Linked DNA regions of Homo sapiens: all the other regions are linked to region 2. The links come from fine-mapping of genetic effects on gene expression. A gene starts in region 2. Each other region holds a variant in brackets. All regions are shown on one strand. Distances are between the middles of the regions.

What was found. PIP is the estimated chance that this variant, and not a neighbour inherited with it, causes the effect.
Region 1: its variant is fine-mapped to the expression of APBA1 in whole blood (TOPMed, PIP 0.94).
Region 3: its variant is fine-mapped to the expression of APBA1 in whole blood (TOPMed, PIP 0.97).

Annotation. Positions count from the first base shown.
Region 1 is chr9:69,617,723-69,625,973 of GRCh38, reverse strand. The region is part of intron 1 of APBA1 (amyloid beta precursor protein binding family A member 1); the gene reads left to right. Among named protein-coding and RNA genes, the nearest start is that of APBA1, 51 kb to the left of the region's middle. The variant C/T (reference allele first, on the strand shown) is at 4,409.
Region 2 is chr9:69,667,796-69,675,841 of GRCh38, reverse strand. APBA1 (amyloid beta precursor protein binding family A member 1) reads left to right here and starts at 3,471. Exons shown (of 13, transcript NM_001163.4): 1 at 3,471-3,689. RefSeq lists silencers at 3,394-3,443, 3,624-3,703.
Region 3 is chr9:69,634,927-69,643,177 of GRCh38, reverse strand. The region is part of intron 1 of APBA1 (amyloid beta precursor protein binding family A member 1); the gene reads left to right. Among named protein-coding and RNA genes, the nearest start is that of APBA1, 33 kb to the left of the region's middle. The variant A/G (reference allele first, on the strand shown) is at 3,392.

The DNA.
Region 1 (8,251 bases), 50 kb after region 2:
CTTATCAAGTAACTCAGATAAAGCCTTTTTGGACCATCAGGGTAGCACTGGATATACTGCCCAAAGAATGTGCTTAAGAATTAATCTGCTGAATTTATTAACAGAGAGTAATTTAGGCAGTGATGAACTCAAGCCCAGTGACATATGTTGCTCTCTTGTATATTCAAGTTGATGGTTGTGCATTGAGTCAAAACCTCTTAAAGTCGTTGGAATATGTTTCAAATTTTAGTAATGCTTTTCTAATAATATGCTTAATATTAAATTTTACAAAGAACAAATGAAAAGCTTGAGATATATTTTAACTAAATTAGCCCAGCAGAGGACAGTGATTTAAACTAATTGAGTCTGTGAGTGGCATATCTCTAAGCCTAATTAATGCTTGAACCCTAAGATTTCTTCAAGATTGAACATTAATCAGGCAACCTCAGTGTTCTCCATATTCACCGAGCCAGCAAATCTTTTTGGGCCTCCTATGTGCTAGGAACAGTTCTAGGGACAAGGGATGCTGCAATGCTCAGTTCAGACAAGATCCCTCTTCCTGTGAAGCTTGTATTTCATTTGAGGAAGAAAATAATGAGCAAAAATGTAAATGTTCAATAAAACTATCAGCTGCAGTTAAATCCTATGCAGAGAATTAATTAGGGCATCATGACAAAGAGTGATCATACAGCTACATTAAACTGGGTGGGACAAGAAGGTCTCAGTGAAATATACAGACTTTGAACAAAGATCCCATTGTCAAAAAGGAGCAGTCCTGGGAAAACATTCCAGAAGGAACAGTGGTGCAAGCTCGATGTGTTTGAAGACAGGTACAGGCTTTTGTGGCCAATGTACTAGGAATGGGGAAAGTGGTCCCAAATAAAGACCATGTTGTGCAGAGCCCTATAAGACAGAGGAAGGAATTTGAATTTATCTTAAGCACAGATAAAATCCAAAGATCTCTGGAATGTGAGCTCCATGAAGGAACTATGGAGGCAAGAAACCTATTAGCAGGCTGTTGCTGTGGGTTGGTTGTTAGCAATTAAATATCTGTAACAAAGGCTGGTCATGCCCTATTTTTCCTTTTCAATAGGAATAAAAACCAGGAAAAACATGTCTCAGTTTGACAGTGGAGAAAGAGAATTTGATGCACTTTTAATTTATTGTTGATGTCTATCTAAACTCACCTTTGCACCTGGGTTTCTCTGCATTTGTGAGAACTTGAACTGTAAATCATCATGCTTTGTTTTAAAACCCTTGCTCAAGAACCAAGTTTTGGTCATGCCATTGTAAATTTGTTGCAAAGACTGATGTAATTTCTTGGAAACTTGACTTCAATGGATTGCCCTCTAAAATTAGGACATATTTGAATGTCTTCAAATGAGGCAGGTCTAATTCAGGTGAGAGTGAGAAACCAGTCATTTTGACCTGCTGGGCACCTCACCCAAGCTCTGTGGAGTCATGGTGGAGGTGACTATATTCAATACCTAGTGAGGATACCAGCAGGGACTGAGCATAGCCCCTCATGCTTTCAAAGAAAAATGCTGTTTTGTGGGCACTTTCTTTAATAATTAATAATAGAAGAAAATTAAATTTTTGTAACTATAAAATTTGTTTCAAAATTGAATGTGTTTTTCATTTGGGATCTTGCTTGGGTCTGAGCAAACTGCCTGGCACAGTAAGAATGAACATTACTTGCTCTGTAAGTGTGTAGGATGTTTTAATCTTAGGCATATTTCTGCCCATCCTTATGTTGGTCTTATGCAGTGTGGCTGCCTATTTAAAACTCACTGTATTGTAAATTCGTGCTGCTCTTTATTATATTTAGAGACTGTTTGATTTTCACTGAAAGCTGTCCCAAACTGCACAGTATCATAATCTGAACCTCTGGGAACTTTTTATTTCATATTCGGAATCCTCAGAAGCAATTTGCCAGCATGTTCTAAAGATAGGTTAAAAATGAATGAAAATGGAAAAAAATGGATTATGATGATTTATGTTTTAAATTTTATGTTGCTTTTACATTTCTAAAAATACACTTATACCTACCTCATGTATATCCATGTCAGAGAGGTATTACAGCAAGATAAGAGAGGTATTACAACACACAAAGGGAGAATTAGACGTTAAGATGACCTACTCAAGGTCATAAAGCTAAAAGCAACAAGCAATCCACCAGTTTTGTTTTGAACATCCTCAAGAGTGTCAACTGTGTTCTCCAGTGTTGGGGTCAAATATGTGCATCCACATGGCCAGGGAGCCTGTTAGAATGTGGGTTCCTGGACTCCACCCCAAGCCTCCCAAACCAGACTCCCAAAGTTTGGAGTTTAGGAATCTGCATTTTTACACACCCTCCCGAGCTGGTTTTTATATGCATTAAAATTGAGAACAATTGGTGTAAAGAACAATTAGATCTAGTCAGGGCCAGCTCTTGCAAAATTGTGAGGTTGGGGAGCATTTTCTTTGACCCATCCACTTCCTGCTTTAAATCGTCTTCTTCCCTCTGTGACTTCAAGCTTGTCCCCAGCTGTCTTCTATCAAACCCTCTTTGAGAAGAGGATATGCAAAAGCTAAAAGTACCACTCGTCCATAAGTTTTCTGCTTTTTAACAGAGAGCAAGTCTTTAAAAAAAAAAAGAAAAAAAAGAAAATCTATAGGAGAAGTGGAGGAGGCACCATTTGGGAATAAAGGAAAATGAGGCTCTCCTTGAACCTGCAGAATCACCCTTATCTATTTCATTGCAGCCTCAGGTCAGTAAACCAGAGTAAATGAAAGCGCAGTAGACTCCCAGCACTCTCCCCCAAGATCCATGTTTCAAAACAACTGTAGATTGATAATGTAGGTTTTTGGGTGGGGTGCCTATGAGCTGCTCTTAAACTTGCTGTTTTCCAGAGTTTTCAAGTACAATTTTGCCATTTGAGCCAAAGATCATGTCAGATCTTTCTAGTGGGACCCCTGGACAGTCTTTGGAGAGGACCCCTAGCTCTGCCAAGAGTGTGGACACTTGAATTATGAAGTCATTCTTGCAGATTCTGTTGCTGCCTGTGCTAATCATGAAGACAATGCATGCTGTTTCTATGTGCTGTGATTGCCAAAACCACAGCTGATAATGAGCTGCTTTCCAAACATCAGAAGGGTTTGTCATGAGAAGTTGGGAAATTATACCAATCATCCCTACCAAAATTTCCAGGGAAAAATCTTTAGCTTGACAGGAATTTAGTTCACAGGCTCTGAATAAGTTGTTCTTGGACGTACAGAAGTACAGACACATTGCAAGGCCCGAGGCTGCAATGACATAGATGACGTGAGGGTGACTCTGTAGGTTCAAATAAGGCCTTATTTCCCTTTATTCCCAAATGCCTCCTTTACTTCTCCAATAGATTTTCTTTTCTTTCTTTGTTTCTTTTTTTTTTCTTATGACTTGGTCTCTATTAAAAAGCCACTTGGAATAAAAAGGTATAAAAACAGACTTTGATTTAATTTGCACTGGCCTTAGATGCTCTTGTTACTGAATGACTTCAAAGACCAGGAACATTTTCCAACAGCACTTCCCTCTGCTAATGGAAGAACCCATGAAACCTAGCCAGACCTACCTGCTCCTATAAGGAACTAGACACAGACATGCTCATATTTAATCACCTTTGGAGATTAAGCCCTTGGTGTAGGATTCATTTCTTTGTTTCACTTTCTAGAGATGATTTTGCTGGAGGAGATGTGTGGCACACCTGAGCTTTGCTCTGCCTCTTACACACTGTGAGTCATAGGGCAAGTGGGCTTATTCTGCTGGTTCTTATTTTTATCATCTTTGACAGGAGGAGAATGGATTTAATCCATAGATCTCACATATGGGTGACATCCCCAGATTCCTGGGGCCCATCCCAGACCAATTGAGATAATTTCAGAGTCTGGGCTTAAGGAGTCTGTGTTTTTTGGAAAGCTCCCCAGTTGATTTTGATGCTCCTCAGGTTTGGTGGCCACTATCAGGTGATCTTTAAGATCCTTCTGGCTCTGATGGACTGGGAGGCAACATCTATGCTATTTATCAGTTTGCCATCTGGGACGGGAGAACATGGTTTGTTGCTAATCATAGCCAACACTGCGTTCCAATTAACTGCTTTATTTCTGCCAAATGCTATGGTTTATTCACTAGTAGGAAGCAGATTAAAGATCACAAAACATTTGCCTTAGGAGGCTTCTGAGCCTGACTCGCTTGTATTTTTCTGTTATATTCATAAAGAAGAGTTGTAATGATGGCCAATACCCACTTAGTGCCTTGTGCCAGGAACTGTTCTATTAATAAGTACTTGATATATATATGAATTTATTTGATCCCACAACTGCTGTTGTGAATATTGTGAAGCTGTTATTGTACATGTTTTACAGATGTGGAAACTGAGGCACAAAGAGAATAAATAACTTGCTCATAGAC[C/T]CACAGTTAATAAGTGATGGGCCAGGACTTGAACCGGAGCAGTCTGACTCAAGAGCCATGCACTCAGCCACTGCACCATACAGTTTCTCCATGGATAAGAAGTTGTCATTGGCTTTTATGCTTTTACTCTGGATTTCTAGGCTGGTTGACTGGAAAGGTGGTTGGACATCACTCAACATAGGGCCACAGAGAGGCCACAGGTTTGGCAGGAATTTCAGTGGTGTTGAAGTACCAGAAAACAAGGTAATGAAGTCATTATTGTGCTACATTTAATATAATTCACGTAATCTTACATGAAGTGATACCTGTGGAGCTAGCACTTTAAGAAATCCCACTGGCATCAAGATGACTAGATGGCCAGGCAGCCAGCACCTTTAGGTTTCCGTATTTTTAGTTAAATTCCCTTCACTGGTGATAATAACAGCTACCATTTTATGAATGCTTACTTTGTGCCAATCTCTGATTTTTACCAAAAGTCCTATCCAACTCCATTTTACAGATCAGGAAACTGAAGCACTGAGAGGTTGTGTAACTTGCCCACCATGCTACAGTTAATATAAGGCAGAGCCCAGGTTCAGTCTCAGCTCCCGGGCCTTTGGATTTAAGCCCACATGCAGGACCGCCGCATGCTGCTACCCAAGCCTTGCTGCTGCTGCTTCATTTCTGGAGCTTCACTGTCGTCCAACTGTGCAGCTCCTTCGTGTGACCGCACCAGCCCGAGCCTGCACACTGTAACACCTCCCTCCATGGCATCTCCATGCAGAGATGGAGTGAATTTAAATGACTGGGAAAGGACCCTGCAGCCACTTTCGGACCCCTTGGGTTTCTCCTTGCTATCTGTAGAAGGAAGAGGTGGCACTCTGTCTCTCAGTTTTGTTTTGTTTTTTTTGAGATGGAGTCTCGCTCTGTCGCCCAGGCTGGAGTGCAGTGGTACGATCTCGGCTCACTGCAACCTCCGCCTCCCGGGTTCAAGCAATTCTCCTGCCTCAGCCTCCCAAGTAGCTAGGACTACAGGCACATGCCACCATGCCCAGCTAATTTTTGTATTTTAGTAGAGACAGGGTTTCACCATGCTGGCTAGGCTGGTCTTGAACTCCTGACCTCAGATCTGCCTGCCTCGGCCTCCCAAAGTGCTGGGATTACAGGTGTGAGCCACCATGCCTGGCCGGCACTCTGTCTCTCTGACCATCAGTCTCTAGGGATAAGCTCAACCTCACTGGCATGCTGGCCACAACCCATTTTCCTAGCTTAGTGTGTACCTTATATCCTCTCATTTTCTTGCTGAAGACTGGTAATACCAATTTGCAGGGGGAAAATGCGGCTAGAATTTATTTCAGACTTTGCCCTGGCTTTGAGAATTAAAAAAAGAAAACGACTAGACCGTCCTCAGGAGAAATTGGAAGCTACCAGTACTAACTGCCAGATCTAACGTGGTGAGGGAGGAAGAGGCAATGCTGGGAGCAAGGACCTAGTTTTCCAGAAGACAGACAGGGCTTTGAGACCAAGATGTTAAGGGAAGACTGTTTTCAGTTCAGTATTTAATTGCTTGTTTTGGGTATTGGGAATCTTTTGTTCCCTCATGTTCTAGAGATTTCAGGTAACTTTTCACGTAGAAACCGAGAATACAAATTTTTATTTTTATCAGAAAATGCTGGCTGTGCGAACATGGAATGGAAAAGTTGCAGTTTATGTCATTCAGCAGAACATAATGTGTGTGTATGTGCATCTCTGTTACATATGTGGGGGCAGTCTGACTGCCTCTGTCAATGCGAATAATTAATTTAGACCACATGCATGAAACTCCAGAATTTAAGACATGACTCTGTGTTATGCTCAAACTTTCTCATAAGGCAGGTTTTATTGTTTAAGCAGGGAAAAATTCAACTTGGCTTCTCTGTTTTTCCCAATCCAAGCACAAGTGAGTTGGGGAGGGAGCCTGTGTCTGAATAACTGATTTTTTGTGTGCTCTTTGAGACAATGGTAATAATGATGCCCTGCCTTTGTATGGCTCTTGATAGTTGGCAGAGCCCATCTGCATACTTTGAGTTTTAAAACACCCATGTGAGATAAGCAGGAGAGAGATTCATTTGTTCTTTATGGCTGAGGGAATAGAGATTCAGAGAGGTTAAGCAGTTTGCACAAGGTCACACAGCTAGTAAATAGTAGGGCCGAAATAGCAAATGTGTTTATAGTATTTATGTGTCTCATATTTCCTTCCCTAATTTACAAAGACCTTTCCAGTTGCTTCTATAGTTCTGTCAGTCTTCATGAATGACTCAGAGTGTGTTTTCAAAGTAATCTGTATATTATGGGGTCATTTTCATGAATGTAATTTCTTTTATTATGGCTTTTTAAGATATCTGTTTCCTTCTCTCCACTCCTAGATAACTTCCTTGAGAGTGGGGACTTAAATTTCCTTTCAATTGCCTCAAAATAACAAATACTCTGTTTCATTAAACAGAGTTGACTGATGTGGTTTTGTAGTCCACAATGCTACTTAGAACCCCCTTAAATGAAAAGAACCAAAATATGTTAGGTACCTGCCATATGCCAAATACTTCACTAGCTGCTCTGCAGACTGCATCTCCATTAACTTTTCACACAGCCCATGGGGTAGATATTGTCCTTATTTTGAAGATAAGAGGTTTGGAAAAGTTGAGAGACTTAGACCTAAGATACCCCAGCTAGTAGGGGGCAGGGTTACGATGTAAATCCATTTCTTCTGCCTCTAACAAGTTTTTACCCTTTTCCTCTATGTAATGTATCTTTAAAAACAAAGGCTGAAAATATATTGCTAAGAATTTCTTATGACAAATCTTGAGCCCTCACCTCTCTTTGTTTCAGTGAATTCACTCTCAGGCTGGGTTCTTTTCTGGCCTGAGCCATGATGGCTCCTTGTCTCTATCTGGTTCTGCCCTACCTGGTGCCCTTGTCTGATTCTACTTGTCATAACCGTCTGATTTTTCATAGCCACATCAGCCTTGGTTGAGTATGACTGGCCGCCATCTTGATTTACTTCATACCTCCGTTTCATTGGTCTCTTTCCATGGAAAGTATCATATCCTTCCTCATAGAACAATTATTCAAGTACTTGCCTTCATTAGCATCCTTCCATATTGTGAGCTTTGAGTTGGTTGGAAATTATTCTACTTACACTTTAATCATTCCAGCATCTAGAACAGTGTCTCTTGTGCATCGCGCAAACACACTAAATGTTGAGTGAATTAAATTGAGTCAAGAGAAGCTGAGTGGTTCCTAGAAAAGTCACTGGTGTCAATGCATGGCTTCTGTAGGGAGCCAATGAAGAGTCTGAGAAGACCTGGGGATGTTCCACCAAGTTAGTGTCTATTGTGTGTGTTTACCAGAGTGCCTGAGCTGTGTTCAATTTCTATGGACCTGTACTAAAATGACTAGCTCGGAAATGATAAATATGCAACTTGCATGGCGCCATTATCCCATCCCACACCTGAGGCAAACAACACTATTCAGTCATGGTACTGTTCCTACACAGTATTCCAGGCATACATTACCAAGCAATTAAAGTTGAGATTTAAGAAAATGTATTTGCTGCTCTTAGGTTAGTCTACCTAGGAGGGCTGTGTGTGTGTGTTTAAGCTTGATGATGAAGCATGGGGAGGCCAGAACTTTAGCACTGCTAGCTTTATGTCCATAAACACCCAAACTTGATCTTCTGATTGGCAAGAAAGTAAGATTTAAAAGGAGGGAAAGTCGCACAACAGTGTGAGTGTACATAATGCCATTGTATATCTAAATATGGTTAAATCGGTAAATTTCATATTATATATTACCACAATTTTTAAAAAATGAGATATAAATCTCAAA
Region 2 (8,046 bases):
GGTTAAGGCTTTACTTTAAACCCAAGTCACTTGGCACAGTGTCTATACTATTGTTACCTGCTTCAATGGTTGGCAGGTTGCCAGTGTTTTATTTTTAGTGACATGGTCTTGCTCTATCACCCAGGCAGAAATGCTATGGCACAATTATAGCTTACTGCAGCCTCAACCTCCTGGATTAAAGCAATCCTCCCATCTCAGCCTCCCAAGTAGCTAGGACTGCAGGAATTCGCCACCATGCCCACTAATTTTTTTTTTTTTTTGAGAGACGGGGGTCTTACTATGTTGCCCAAGCTGGTCTTGAACTCCCCAGCAATCCTCCCACGTTGGCCTCCCAAAGTGCTGGGATTACAGGCATGAGCCACCATGCCTGGCTGCCAGTATTTTATATACTGCTTCCTGAAACACTTGAATAGCAGTTTCGACCCTGTTAACAGGAGAAGGTGGATTGGAGTGGTGGATTGGAGTGCCTTATAAGAGATCTACTAAAAAGAAAAACATCAATAAAGCAGGCACAGGAAATCTATAAATAGAATAGAACAAGACCAAAGGAGGGATTAAGACATGGATCTACATGCCATATGGATCCACTCATTTCCTACAATGATCTGAAAATTTGGCTTTGAGTTTCCTGCCAGCGAAGGCACAGAGTAACAAGAGCACTTAAGACAATGATTCATGCTATCCAGAAGAAATAGGAATATGTGTTTTTCATGGGGGTGGGGGAGGGAGGGAAATTTCCACATATGAACATTTGGTAAGTAATTAGTTTTGGAGGTCTCTAAGCTACCATTATAACTAACAATTATTACCTTTCTTTATATGGCACTGAATACTTTGCAGAGAAATTTCACATAACTTTCTTTACACAAAAATCCTGCGAGGTAAGATTCCAGGATATTATTAAAGCAATAATGTAACCCTTATTCATGCATCTAAGAACCTAGTCTAACTGGAAAGGCAACACAAAAAGTAGAAAATAAGCAGAAAGATCTCTGAGATAGCAAACCAAATGGCAATAAGTGTATGCACAGAAAAGAGCCTCTCACTCAGAACCTATATTCTCTTATTTAACCTGAAATTCTAACAGGGTTCATTTCCTTCCTAAAACTGCAGTGGATTAAAAGTAACAAAACAGAAACTATTACAGAGAAGCACTCTGAAAGCCTCCTAGATGCGTACACAGGAGAGCAGAGGCAAGAACTAAAAACAATCAAAAGAGCAGTTAGTGCAAAAACAGAAAACCCTAAACACTCACTAAGTAGGATAAGCTCAGACTCTCTCCGCCCTGGATCCTGACCCTCCACGAATCAGTTCCTCACAAACCACCTCAGCCATCTTTCAGGAACGGAAATGTGATCCTGCTTGCCTGCTCCCAACTCTTGGCAACCCTTCATTGACTTTCCAGGCTCATAAGACAAAATCATTATTTAAAAACGGTCCACAAAGTCTGCCTGCCTCTCCAGTCTCATCTCACTTCGGCCCCACCTGCTTGGGCCTTTTCACATTTCCTTCCCTTTACCTGGAAGTGTCTCAATGCTGCCTCTCCTGGGGGATCTGAAATGTCATTTCCTTAGAAAGCCTTACCTAGTCCCAGAGTCCACATTAGGTTTTCCCGTGCACCTTAGCGCCTTTGCAGTTGAGAATTTATCACAGTTGCACTTAGTCTGATTGTTTTATTTGTTTGTTTGTTTTTTGAGACACCAAGGCTGGAGTGCAGTAGCGCGATCTCGGCTCACTGCAACCTCCGCCTCCCGGTTCAAGCATTCTCGTGCCTCAGCTTCCCGAGTAGCTAGGATTACAGGCGTGCACCAACACGCCCGGCTAATTTTTGTGTTTTTAGTAGAGACAGGGTTTCGCCATGTTGACCAGGCTGATCTCAAACTTTTGGCCTAAAGTGATCTGCTGGACTCAGCCTCCCAAAGTGCTGGGATTACAGGCGTGAGCCACCGCGCCTGGCCAGTCTGATAGTTGAATACCTATTTCCTTCAGCGTACTGTGAGCTCTGGTGGAAAAGGACCATGTCTGGCTCGTACATATGCCAAATAAGTATTCACCGGAAAAAATATGAGTAATGTCACAGGACAAGCAGACATCTTCCTAGTATATAATTTTAAATTTTACTAAAATCTTTTTGAGAAGGTAGCTATTGTTTTATTAAAGCAAAAAAAAATTACAAAGTACAATGCAAAATTCATATGAATTTTAAAGCTAAAACAAGACTTTCAGAATGCTTTAGGCTACACCCCCAGACTTCTCTAGAGACGTGCTTAAAATAATATGGAAACACGGTGTGGTAAAAGATCCATTTCCCAAGGGATCTGGATAACCAGCGCTTATCTTCATTTTACTGGAGAATACATGTGCGGAGAGGGCTTTGCAAACTACAAGGCTTTGTGCATTATAACATTATTATGGAAAAATCTGTGTTTCTAAGAGGGGGAATGATTTAGCTATTGCATTGCCAATTACAGGTGGGGCTGGCGCCAGAGCCCAGGCCTCCCGGGGCCTGTCTAGCCCACAGCTTTTCATTAATGCACAGCACTTGCCACCTGGTCCCTGCCGCAAAGGGTGGCCTCTCGAGTTAGGAGCCATATCTAGGGCGGATGGCCTGTGCTAGGCTCAAAGACACTTAAGTTCCGATCAACCAGAACTGAGGAGCGGGTAGGAAAACCAAGCCGAGCCTTCCTCGGCTTCACAATCCGCAGGCTCTCCGCTGTCCCCGGCGGGACTCGGCAGTTCCCCTGGAGGGCTGCAGCCCGGCTGTCTTCGCTCAGGCCCAAGCCCGCGCGGCTCTCCCCCTGGCGGAGAACTCGCAGGACTGCGACGCATTCCGGAGACGCCGTCAATCTCCGAATTTGAAGCGCAGGCGATATCTAAGGGGCCTGGGAAGCGGGAAAGCTCGGGAGTCACTCCGGAGAGAACACCCTGCAGGAGTCGACGCGGCTGCCTGGCTTCGTGGTCCTGCAGCGTGGCCCGTTGCTTCGCGCAGAGGTTGGCCACAGCTGCTGGCTAGGAAACTGGGGACCACCTGGGTTGCCACCGAGGAGGGTGGAGGCCCCCGTCAGTCCCCTCGGGGATGCAGCTGCATTTTCCCCTCCTTGCGTCCGGCCGGGAGCCAGAGGATGGGGCTGTGGAACCCATTCCGAAAGGCAGGGCGGGCCCTTCGGAACCCGGACGCGAGGGAAGGCGAGAGGCGCGGGTGTGCCGCACGCCCACCGGCGCCGGGGCAGGGGCGCTGCAGCCGGCGGCCCACGGAGGACATCAGCGGTGCCGCCGCCGCCGCCGCGGGCTCGCGGGCCGCGCGCGCACGCGAGTGGGCGAGGGAGGCAGGGGCGCTACTAGCAGGCGGCGTGCGCGCGCGCGCTCCCCCGCGCCCTCCCTCGCAGGCCCGCCCGGCCCCAGCGCGCGTCACGAGGGGCCAGCGAGCTAGCTGGAGGGCGGGAGGGAGGGTGGGGAAAGGGGGTGGGGCCGCGAGACCGGAGGGGTCCGAGCAGCGGCTGCGGAGCCGGAGCTGGGCGAGGGCGGCTGCGGTCCCGGCGGCGGCGGCGGCGGCGGCAGCTGCGGCGGGAGAAGATGGTGGCGCTGGAGGCAGCAGCGGCTGGAGCGGAGCTTTATTCCCAGGCTTGGCACCAGCGCTGTCACTAGCGCCGCCTGCTCCCGCGGGCCCGCGGACCCAGCTGTCAGGCAAGGTACCACAGCCAGGGAGGGGTGGGTGAGAAGGGGTGCCCGGCGCTGATGCGGCCCCCGACGGAGCCCGGGTCCTCGCCAAAGGGCGCCCCCGGACGCGAGAGGGGCTGCCTGGAACAATAGTGCGGAGGAGCGGAGGCAGCAGGCGACATCCAGGAGGCAGTGCCTGGAACCATCAGCTAGCGAGGCGGGGGAAGGCGGCGTTGCGAGCGAGACGCCTGGGGTCCGGTGCCCGCTGAGATGCCGGGCTTCGGGCGCAGCAGGCGGGCCTGATGACAGTCATGGCAGGAGTGAGTGTGTGAGAGTGTGTGTGTAAAAGGTACAGCAGAGGGGATGGGGTGGCGGACGGAGGTGTTGGGGGGTGACATTTCCAGGAATCCCCGCTAGGACCCCCTCATCTCTCGGCTGACTCTCCTGGAGAAAGAATGTGATGATGGAAACGGTGAGGTGGGCAGGATGCACTTGGTGTGTGAAGTGTGGAGGGAGGCAGTGGGATAGGGGCCGGTTTGTAAAATCCTGTATATGTGTGTGTACGCGTGTGGTTGCATCCACGTTCCCCAAACTGCGCCCCAAATCCAGAGATCTGCCGCTGCCCTTACTTGATGTCACCGGCTAAGACTGTGGGACAGTGTTTGTTATTTTGACCCTGCAACTCTGAGCACAGTGTCTGTTCTGCTCCTGCGTGTGGATGGCCCAGTGTAGGGATTCTCGCTTCCCCTTCCTCTGGCCTCATGACATGGGGATGTGGAAGTGAGCATGTTGCTTTGAGGCACATGGCAGGGAAATAGGATAACCGTTACACATTCTGGGCTTGCTAATGTACCTGGTTTTGAAGGGGCCTTCCATCCTGTGATACTACTTCTCTCCTTAGCACCTGTTCCATAAGGGTCTTGTACTCCCTGACTGTGCAGTTTCTATTGTTTTTCTCTTGTCTGACCAGAAGGAGAAGGATGTTGAATGATCAGATTCCTCTTCCTGTCCCCACAACTTTCAATGCTAGCTAGACCTTCTCCTTCCACATTTAAGCACTGAAAACCTTATGGCTAGAGGATGGATGGTCTTTGTGTTGGTTCTTTTAGAATGAACTCTGGAGGTGTATACGTATAGAGAGATGCGGTGGGGCGGGGGGCGGTCTTTTAAAAAGAAGAAAAATATCACACGGAGAAATGTTTGGTGCCCACTTGGTCAGCATCACACAGCCAGGGCGTTTTCCTCAGGAAACAGGATACTTTATTTCTACTGCTGGTGACATCCACTCTCCCAGCTGTCACAATAGCTAGGTGGTGCCGTGTATCATTTGGAAACTGAAATCTCCTGAGACCCACAGCGATGGGGTCCCAGGTCAGTAAAGTCCCTGCTTTCCTACCTGATAGAGCCCACTAGTAGGGAATTTGGAAAAATGTCAGGCTGGCAACAACTCACCCAGTGGGAACAAGGACACAGAAATGCATCCAGAGTCTATGGCTGTTTAATTGTCTCTGCGTGGTAAAGATAGGTGTGTGTAGGTAGGGTTGGGTAGAGGTAGGCAGGGAGATGGCATATTCATGTGTATCCAGGGCAGTGTGATTCCCCCTCACCTATGTTTCTCCTGCGGTATTCATAGGAATGAGTGCACTTTACACTTAATATCTCGACACTTCTTTATTAAAATGTTGTATGACTAGCTTAATCTGCTTAGGACATGTTTTAGTCATAACACCTTAAATTCTACTGCATTGTCGGAATCCAAACTGGCTGCCCGGTTCTCTTCGAAAAGCCCGTAGCAGTCATGGCTACACAAGTAAATATACAACATGTTGGCACCAGAGATTTATTTTTCTTTTTTAAAATTTTTGTTTTGCTTTCTTTTATGGGCAAAGATTGCATGATATCGTTGTGAAAATAATAAAACTAGGGCTATCCACATATGCTTTTTTTTCTTCCCATGTATCTTATTTAATGATATATAGACAAGGTGCTCTTGAAGCTGTCTATGTAAAGTAAATTTCCCCATGTTCTTCAAGTCAAGCCTTCTAAGATTTTAATGTGAGGTTGGTTGTTGGCTGTCATCCAAGATTTAAGGATAGATTTATAAAAATGAATTTTGAATCTTAGTTCTTTACTCTCTTATTTGTTATGCCAAATGTCTTTCTGAGAAAAGTACTTAGGGAATTTAAAAGCCATTCTAAGAGATTTTGGTTTAAAAAAAAGTCATCATCCTTTATATTTGCAAGTAAGACCAGGGATGTAAATGTCTCACAAGAAAGTTTAATAATATGAGGAATTACCAGGTAAATACCCTGTTTAGAGAAAGAGGAATTACACAGCAGCAAAATCGATGACTCAGGAATCAGTTCTTTTCTAATGTAAATGTGATCATTTTTATTTTTATTTGTCTTTTTGAGACAGGATCTTCCTCTGTCGCCCAGGCTGGAGTGCAGTAGTGTGATCATAGCTCACTGCAGCCTCAAACTCCTAGCTCAAGCAATCCTCCTGCCTCAGCCTCCTGAGTAGCTGGGACAATAGGCACATGGCACCACACCCAGATATTTGTTTATTTTTTTCAGAGATAGAGTCTCGCTATGCTGCCCAGGCTGATAGTTTTAAAAATGCAATATCTGGCTTTTCTAAAGATCGGACTGGTATAAGGTTAATGAGACAGCTCTAATAAATGGTGGTACCTTTTGCTGTGGCCTGCAGCAAGCCATTTTTTGTGCATGGATGCCTTTCCTTCACTTAAAGTAGCATCAGTGCTTTTCTCTTCCATTATTGAGCCTCTTAAGGTTTTTTGTTGTTGTTGTTTTGTTTTGTTTTGTTGTTATTGTGTTTGTTTGTTTCGGAAGACTTAGGGGTAAGAGATATTTGAAAATTGACCTCTGGGGCCAAAAGGAATTAACTGTAGTACCTTGGGGAGATAGGACTTTTATCCTAGAAAGAAGAAGTAATTGTTGCTAAAATTGAGAGAATTTCAAGCCGTAAAATCTGAAGTTAACTCTCTGGGTTACAATAATTAATTTGCAAACATTTGTTAATTGCCTCCCGCATCTCAGATCCACTGTACCTTTGGATAGGGGACAGGGAATGTTGAGAAGGGTTGGAGGTTCAAAGAATGCTAAGTCTTAGATCCTGGCCAGAGGTGGATCATGATCTAGAAGGAGAAAAGAGGAAATATGTTACTAACTGTAAAAATAGTGAAAAATGATTAAGTGCTGAAAAAGCAGTATTCCTGCAGAGCTGTGGGAGTTCACAGGGTACAAAGTGACTTCTGATGGAAGAATTAGGGAAGGTTACATGGGATATAGCATTTGAGCTGTGATTAAGGTGGCATTTGGGTTGGCAGAGAAGGAAGGGCATGCTTGGGGGAGGAACAGTGTAGCACAGGCCTGGCAGTGGAAGGTGTATGCCTACACAGGAAACAAAAAAATGGTGTGCTTTGGCTGAAGCGCTAGGAATGCCAAGAGATGTAATGAGGGATAAAGCAAGAAAGAGAGGTTTGTTCAAGGTGGTGGAGCAACTTGTACGCCAAGCTAAGGAGTGTGGATTTTGTTCAGTAAGGACTGGGGAACTATAGAAGATTTGTGAGGAGAAAGATTGACAGTATCAGAACTGTGCTTTGGGGCAATACTTTTGTAGTATTATGTTGGATGGAATGACATGGGAAAAGGCTGGCAGGAGGGAGACCAGATAGACTCTATTGTCAAAGTAGGGGAAAGATGGAAAGAGGCAGTGGGAGGCAAGAAGGGAACACACCTAAGAGGTGGTGTGCGGGAATTATCTGAGGAGCTTGAACAGTCACTGGAAAGTGAGGAAGGGAAAAGGGAGGCCAAAAGATCATTGTCAGGCTTAGCTGAGAGAGCAGTTGGGTCATTTTCAGAAAGAAGATATAACAGAGGATAAGGAAGAGGAGAGAAGTTTCTTTTTGAGCATGACAGGCTTGTCCAAGTTAAGGGACTAGAATACAGAGGGAGGTTAGAGCTACCAGGAGATTTGTAGGTCATCTGCTTAGGAGCGATTTTCATATCCCAGGAATCACTGATAAAGAAAATGAAGAAAGAAGAAGCAAAAGTAAGGATAGGATCCTTGAGGGATGTCTGTATGTTGGAGGGGAAAGAGAAAGAAGAGGACAGGAACCACGTTAAACAAGGGGCAATTGGAGAAAAATGATGGAAGTGAAGTGGTACAGTGTCATGGAAGCTGGAAGGGGTGAGGAGAGCCCCTGTCACTCACACAGCACACCCCATGGGTGACGGTGCAACCAAGGCAAAGCCATTGGATTTGACTCTTGGATTTCCTTGATTGTCTTTGTGGTAGGTGGAAGTGGCAGCCAGGGGCAAGGGTTGAAGGGAGGCGTGGGGGAAGGGAAATGGAAAGCAGTGAAAA
Region 3 (8,251 bases), 33 kb after region 2:
TTATGAGTAGGATTGCTGGATCAAATGTAAGTGCAGAGTATTTGTTTAATTTGATTTAAAAACTGCCTATATTAGTAGTCAGAGTTCTCCAGAGAAACAGAACCAACAGGCTGTGTGTGGAGGGGGGAGGAGGGGTGTGTGTGTGTGTGTGTGTGTGTTTGTGGCGGGGGTGTGTGTGTATACACATATATGTATATATAGAGATCAGCTGGTTGATTTAGCTGAAGGAATTGGTTCGTGTGATTGTGGAGGTTTGGTAAGTCCAAAATCCACAGAGCAAGCTGGAAGGCTGGAGACCCAGGGAAGAGTTGCAGTTCAAATTCAAAGGCAGTCTGCTGGGAGAATTCCTTCTTGTTCAGGCGGTAGTCAGTCTGTTCTCGTAATGCCTTCAACTGATTGTATGAAGCCCACTTATATTATAGTGGGCAATCTGCTTTACTCAAAGTCTACCATTTAAATGTTAATCTCCTCAAAAAAAAACCTTCATCTGCAAATGAAGAAACCAACTTTATTTCTCTCTATCTCTCTCTATCTCTCTCTCTCTCTTTCACAAAAACATATAGAATGATATTTGACCAAGTATCTGGGCACTGTGGCTCTGCCAATTTAATTCATAAAATTAACCACTAGATTGCCAAACTGTTTTCCAAAGTGGTTCTTCCATTTTGATTTCCCACCAGCAACTTATGAGATTTCCAGTTGTTCTGCATCCTTGTCAACACTTGGAATTTTCAGGCTTTTTAGTTTTAGGTATTCTAGTTAAGTGGTAGAGATAATGCATTGCATTTCCCTGATGACTAATGATGTTGAGTGTCTTTTTATGGGCTTATTGTCCAATCATATCTTTTCTGTACTAAAGCATCTGTTTAAATCTTTTGGTTATATTTTCAGTGGCTTGTTTGTCATCTTATTGAGTTGTAAGGGTTGTTTATGTATTCCAGGTATAAGTCTTTTATCACATAGGTGTTTTGCAAATATTATCTCTAGTCAATGACTCATCTTATTTTCCTAACACTGTCTTTCAAAGGATGGAAGCTTTTAATTTTGGTGATGTGCAAATTATTAACTTCTGCTTTTATAGTTTGTACATTTTTTGTGTCCTGTTTAAGAAGTCTTCATGCCTGGGCAACATGGTGAAACCCCATCTCTACTAAAATACAAAAAATTAGCCAGGTGTGGTGGCGTGTGCCTGTAGTCCCAACTACTTGGGAGGCTGAAGCAGGAGAATCGGTTGAATCCGGGAGGCGGAAGTTGCAGTGAGCCGAGATCACGCCACGGCACTCCAGCCTGGATGACAGAGCGAGAGACTCTGTCAAAAAATAAATAAATAAAAAATAAAAGGAAATCTTCACCTAGCCCAAAGTTACAAAGATTTTTCTGCTATGTTTTCTTCTGGAACTTTTATAGCTTTAGCTCTTAAATTTAAGTCTCTGGCCCATTTTAAGTTAATTTTTGTGAATAGTGAGAGAGAACGATTGATTTTTTTCACATATGAATATTCAGTTCTAATACCCCTTTTTTGAAAAGATTATCATTTCCATATTGAATTACCTTAACAGTTTTGTTGAAAATCATCTTACCATATATGGTGGGTCTGTTTCTGGACTTCATTTTGTTTCTTTGATTTATATGTCTATCCTGTGTTAATATCACACTGTCTTGATTACTGTAGCTTTATACTAAGTTTTGTAATCAGGTAGTATGAGTCCTCCAACTTTGCATTTTCTTGTAGATTTTAGAATCAGATTTTAGCATTTCCATATAACTTTTATAATCTACTTGTCAGTTTCTACAGAGAAGTCTGCTGGGATTTTGATTGGTATTATGTTGAATCTATGGATCATTTGGGGCATAATTGATGCCTTAATAATACTGAATTTTCCAACCCATGAACATGGTATATCTTTCCATTTCTTTAGATCTTCCTTAATTTCTCTCAGCAATGTTTTTTTTCCTAAGTATGTCACGTTTTTAGTATTTTCTTTTTAATTTCAACTTCCAGCTGTTCATTGCTAGTATATTAAAATGTCATTGCATTTCATATATTGACGTTGTATCTTGTGACCTTGTTAAACTCAGTTATTAGTTTTATCACTTTGGTATATTCCTCGGTATTTTCTACATAGATTATGTCATCTGCAGATTATGTCATCTGCAAATGAAGAAACCAACTTTATTTCTCTCTCTCTTTCTCTTTCTTTCTTTCTCTCTCTCTCTCTTTCTCTTTCTCCCTCTCCTTTCCCCTCTCCCCTCTCCCCTCTCCCCTCTCCTCTTTCCTTATTACATGGGCTAGGACCACCAATATTGAATTGAAATAATTGAAATGATGAGAGAAGTGGTCTTTCACCATTAAGTGCGGTGTTAGCTACAGGTTTTTTGCAGATGCTCTTCATCAACTTTCCTTCTATTTCTAGTTTGTTGAGAGTTTTTATTATGAATGGGAGTTGAGTTTTGTGAAATGCTTTTTCTGAACGTATTGAGATGGTGAGTGTATATGTTTATTTTTACTAGCTATATAGCCTTGGAAAGGTCAGTTTCTGTCTTCTGAGAAATAGGGATACTAATACCTTTTCCTGTGGCTGTTATGTAATATATATAACATTCAGCATAGGCTCTGGTGGTTGGTTGACTCTGTAATATTATTATATGGATAATTATTAATATTACAGAGTCAAAATGTTGACTCTGTAATATTATTATATACATTAATTTTTTTAATTTTCCAAATGTGAACGTATTATTAACCAAGCTTTTGCAAATTATATGACTCCCAGCAATTCTAAACTTCTCCCAAGGAATACTTGTGCCCCAGATGAGCATTCGTGTCCTAAGCTTTCCAGATTTGCTTTATTTCCCGGGAGTGAGGGCTCACACTATTTTATAGTTTCCTAATCATAAGACACTGTATTCTAAAACTGTCATTGTTTCCTAGTAAGTTTTAAAGCAACATTTTTTGTTTAAATATGCACATATAATGTGTGAGTGTGTGTGTAAGTAATGGCTTTAGGAGTTGTACATATGCAAAATAGATGGGCATTACACCTGGATAACGCTTATTTTATTAATCTTTTCTGTTATCTGTCTTTTCCCTTAGTAATTTATTTGTTGAGGAAAAAATGGTTGATTTTTCCTGTAGGATGTTCTTTATCCCTAAAGTTTAGTCTGGGTTTTGCTGATTGTCCCCTGTACTGTCATTTCATATGCTCTCTGTTCTCTGTGTTTTATATAAATTAGTAGACAGATGTAGAAGCTTCAATGGACTCCATTTAGATGATTTTTGGCAATATTATTTCATAAGTGCTTTTTCTAAGTGTATTAATTTATTGGGATTTAAAAATGATGACATTCAGATTTTACTATTCCCTCATTTATTAGCTGGACTTCTATAAGG[A/G]GAAACACTTGTCAACTCTCTGGTTACTTGACATATAATTTATACTAGCAAGGCAGAGTAAATGTTTGATTCTTTCTTTTTATTTACCAGTTTTCAAAATAAGGAGTTGGTTTGCTCACACCCTCCAGGGGGTAACCAGTGAGAAAGGCAAGTTTTATTGTTACTATTGACTTTAGTACTGTGAATTTAAGCACATTTGATATATTTTAATCCATTTCATTTTGGACAGTAGGAGCCTATTAAAGGTGGCCCTGATTCCTTTTGACATACTCCTTGTGCTCTTTGATAGCTCCTTTGCTTCTGGTGTGATGAGATGTTCCAGGTTCATCCTTTATATTTTCTACTTTTGACCTGGAATCAGCTACTTCCCCTGAGAGGTTCTCTTAGTTTCTTTAAGTGAGAAATGGTATTTAATGACCTCAATCTATTGGGACTACTAGGTTGCTCATTATTTCTAGGCCAATTTAATGGGCAGAGTAAGATAAAATGCTTCACAAGTTCATATTGATCCTTCCCATTCAAATTCAGTACAACAGGATTACAACTCCCTTTTAAAAGAGAAAAATTCACATAGACTAATACAACTTCAGTGAGCCACAGAACTCAGTTGAGAATAGATGGATGAAAATAATGCCGAAAAAATGTCTTTTAACTGTAAACTATCTCTGTAAAATAGAAGTTTTTCTATTTCTAAATAATAATTTAGTGAACATGATGGGAGCTGAGGATTAGGTTATCATAAAAATCAAAACCTATATAAATTCTCTTATAGTTTTAGGGACCCTGAGAATGGGGCATGGACCCTGTTTTTTGAGAAGCTCTGTCCCTGTCTATATATTTCTGTTATTTTCATGTGACTTCATGGATTTATATTTTTTAATTTTTAGTTTTCAAAATTTAACTTTGAAATTTTAATCTTCAAAAATTTGATTTTCAAAATTCAAAATTTCAAAAACATACACCTCATATGTTTTTTCCATCAATCTTCTGAATGGGCACTGAGGCATCTGAAAGAAAAAGATTTTGCATATACTTGCCTAGACAGACACCAACTTTATCTTGTCTTAGTAAAAATTTTATGTGATTTTTAATCACTTCTGATTCATTTGCTGACTTGATACCTGAGTGGTTCTTTAAACTATTTAAACATGCACATGCCTGCATGCAAACACAAACCATCTGTTTAATCTTGTACACATAAATGAAGAGAGGGTCAGGGCAAGGGCTGTATTATTCACTTTATAAAGTATGCACTTGATGGCTCACACCTGTAATCCCAGCACTTTGGGAGGTCGAGGTGGACAGATCACCTGAGGTCTGGAGTTCGAGATCAGCCTGGCCAACATGGTGAAACCCCGTCTCTACTAAAAATACAAAAATTAGCTGGGCATGGTGGCGCATGCCTGTAATCCCAGCTACTTGGGAAGCTGAGGTAGGAGAATTGCTTGAACCCAGGAGGCGGATGTTGCGGTGAGCTGAGGTTTTGCCACTGCAATCCAGCCTGGATGACAGAGTAAAACTCCATCTCAAAACAAAAACAAAAACAAAAACAAAAACAAAATATGCACTTGAGCATTTCATTCATAAAGCTAGACACCCTAGTGCATTTAAAATATGTTACCTGTACAAAAATCTGTATACAGCTCTTTAGCAACATATCTCTTGAGTAAATAAAATTACTGTTCATCAGATGTGTTGTCTTTTGAAAGAAAGAAACAACACCATATTCAGAGGTTGCCAATGCTGCTCAGTTGTGAATTCTGCAAGAAGGCATTCATGGTAATGTCATGACTCATGAATTATGTGCTATATTTGAGCAGTGAGGTCAGCTGTTGTAGCACATAATTCATTATCTCACATTCATGATTTTTCTTCCTTTCTCTATTTCATATGTCCTGCCTTCCTTTTTTCTATGTAGAATTTCTCCTGTCTGGCCCAGTGTTGGGCATGATCCAGCTTTCCTATTAAAATGTAACTTCAACATTTATTTTTCATAATTGTCATTTTAAAAAGTATGACAGTTTTGAAGATATTATTTTATAGCACTTTTATGTGTTTTAGGTCCACATTAAACTGGCAGAAACTGTTATACAAGACAAGTACATCTTCTCTGCATTAGAAGTTGTGCTTGTTATTCAAACTGCTTCTCAGCCTGTGTCTGCTGTGCCACGGTATGGAAGCGTATTTCATCTGTTTTACCTATTTGAGCCAATGGTTTATCCCTAAAGCAGCCTACAAGGATTTATATTTTTTAATTTTTAATTTTCAATTTTTATGGGTACATAGTGGTATAAATATTTATGGGGTACATGAGATATTTTGATACAGCCATACAATGAGTCATAATTACATCACAGTAAATGGGCTATCCATCACCTCAGGCATGTATCTTTTCTTTCTGTTACAAACAATCCAATTATAGTGTCTTTGTTACTTTAAAAGGCATAATAAATTATTGTTGACTGTAGTCACCCTGTTGTACTATCAAACACTAGATCTTATTTATTCTATCTAACTATATTTTTGTGTCCATTAATCATCCCTACTTCATCCTCCCCAACCCTTCCCAGCCTCTTGCAGCTTTCATTCTATTCTCTATCTCTATGAATTCCATGGTTTTAATTTTTATCTCCCAGAAAAAAGTGAGAACATGTGAAGTTTATCTTTCTGTGTCTGGCTTATTTCACTTAACGTAAATACCTCCAGTGCCATCCCTGCTGTTGCAGATGACAGGATTTCATTTAGGATCTCATTCTTTTATATGGCTGAATAGTACTCCACTGTGTATATGTATCACATTTTTCTTTCTTTCTTTCTTTCTTTCTTTCTTTCTTTCTTTCTTTCTTTCTTTCTTTCTTTCTTTCCTTCCTTCCTTCCTTCCTTCCTTCCTTCCTTCTTTCCTTCCTTCTTTCTTTCTCTCTCCCTCCCTCCCTCCCTCCCTCCCTCCCTCCCTCCCTCTCTCTCTCTCTCTCTCTCTCTCTCTTCTTTTTTTGAGACAGGCTCTCACTCTGTCACCCAGGCTTGGGTGCAGTGGTGCCATCATGGCTCATTGCAGCCTCAACTTCTCCAGGCTCAGGTGATCCTCCCACCTAAGCCTCCCAGGTAGTTGGGACTACAGACACATGCCACCATGTCCAGGATTTTTGTACTTTTTGTAGAGATGGGGTTTCACTGTGTTGCCCAGGCTGGTCTCAAATTCCTGGGCTCCAGTGATCAGCTCGCCTCAGCCTCCCAAAGTGCTGTGATTACAGAATGTATTTTCTTTATCCATTCATCTGTTGATGGACATGTAAGTTGCTTCCAGATCTTGACTATTGTGAATGGTGCTGCAACAAACATGGGAGTGCAGATAGCTCTTTGATATGCCAATTTCCTTTTTGGGAGTATATACCTAGCAGTGGAATTGCTGAATCATATGGTAAGTATATTTTTAGTTTTTTGAGGAACCTCCAAACTGTTCTCCATAGTGGCTGTATTAATTTACAGTCCCCTCAACAGGACATAAGGGTTCCCATTTGTCCACATCCTCAGCAGCATTTGCTATTGCCTGTCTTTTGGATAAAAGTCATTTTAACTGGGGTGGGATGCTACCTCATTGTAGTTTTCACTTACATTTATCTGATAATCAGTGATGTTGAGCATCTTTTCATAAACCTGTTTGCCATTTGTATGTCTTCTTTTGAGAAATGTCAGATCCTTTGCCTGTTTTTAAACCAGATTATTAGATATTTTTCCTATAGAGTTGTTTTAGCTCTGGTTATTTATCTGCCATCATATGGGTAGTTTGCAAATATTTTCCCTCATTCTGTGGCTTGTCTCCTCACTTTGTTGATTGTTGCCTTTGCTGTACAGAAGCTTTTTAACTTGATGTGATCACATTTGTCCATTTTTGCTTTGGTTTCCTGTGCTTGTGGAATATTACTCAAGAAGTTTTTGCCTAGCCAATGTCTCAGAGAGTTTTCAGTGTTGGGTGCATATATATTTACAGTTGTTATATTGTCTTGCTGAATTGACCCCTTTATCATTATATAGTGACCTTTGTTTCCTCTTACAGTTTTTGTCTTGAAATATATGTTGTCTCATGTAAGTATAGCTACTCCTGCTTTTTTTTGGTTTCCATTTACATGGAGTATCTTTTTCCATTCCTTTATTTTCAGTCTGTGTGTGTTTTTATAGGTGAAGTGTATTTCTTTTAGGCAACAGATCATTGGGTCTTGTTTTTTTCATCCATTCAGCCATTCTAAGTTTTTTTATTGAATTGTGTCCATTTACATTAAATGTTATTATTGATAAGTAAGAACTCACTCCTACCATTTTGTTGTTTTTTTCTGGCTGTATTGTGGTCTTTCCTTCCTATCTTCCTTTTAGTGAAGGTTATTTTTATCTGGTGGTGTGTTTTAATTTCTTGCTTTTTTTGTGTGTATATGTTTTATGTTTTTTGATTTGGGGTTACCATGAGGCTTGTAGATAATACACTCATTATTTTAAACTGATCACAACTTAACACCAATTGCATAAACAAACAAGTAAAGAGAAAAGTAATAACAACTGTATGCTTTAACTTCATCCCCTGATTTTAAACTTTTTCTTTTCTGTTTATATCTTATTGTACTATGTCTTGAAAAGTTGTTATAGTTTTTTTGACTAGTTTATCTTTTAGTCTTTCTACTCAAGATATACTTATACACCACAATTATAATGTTATAATATTCTGTGTTTTTCTGTGCACTTACTATCACTAGTGAGTTTTGTGCCTTCAGATGATTTCTTATTGTTCATTAGCATACTTTTCTTTCAGACTGAAGTACTTTCTTTATCATTTCTTATAGGATAGGCCTGGTGCTGATGAAATCCCTTAGC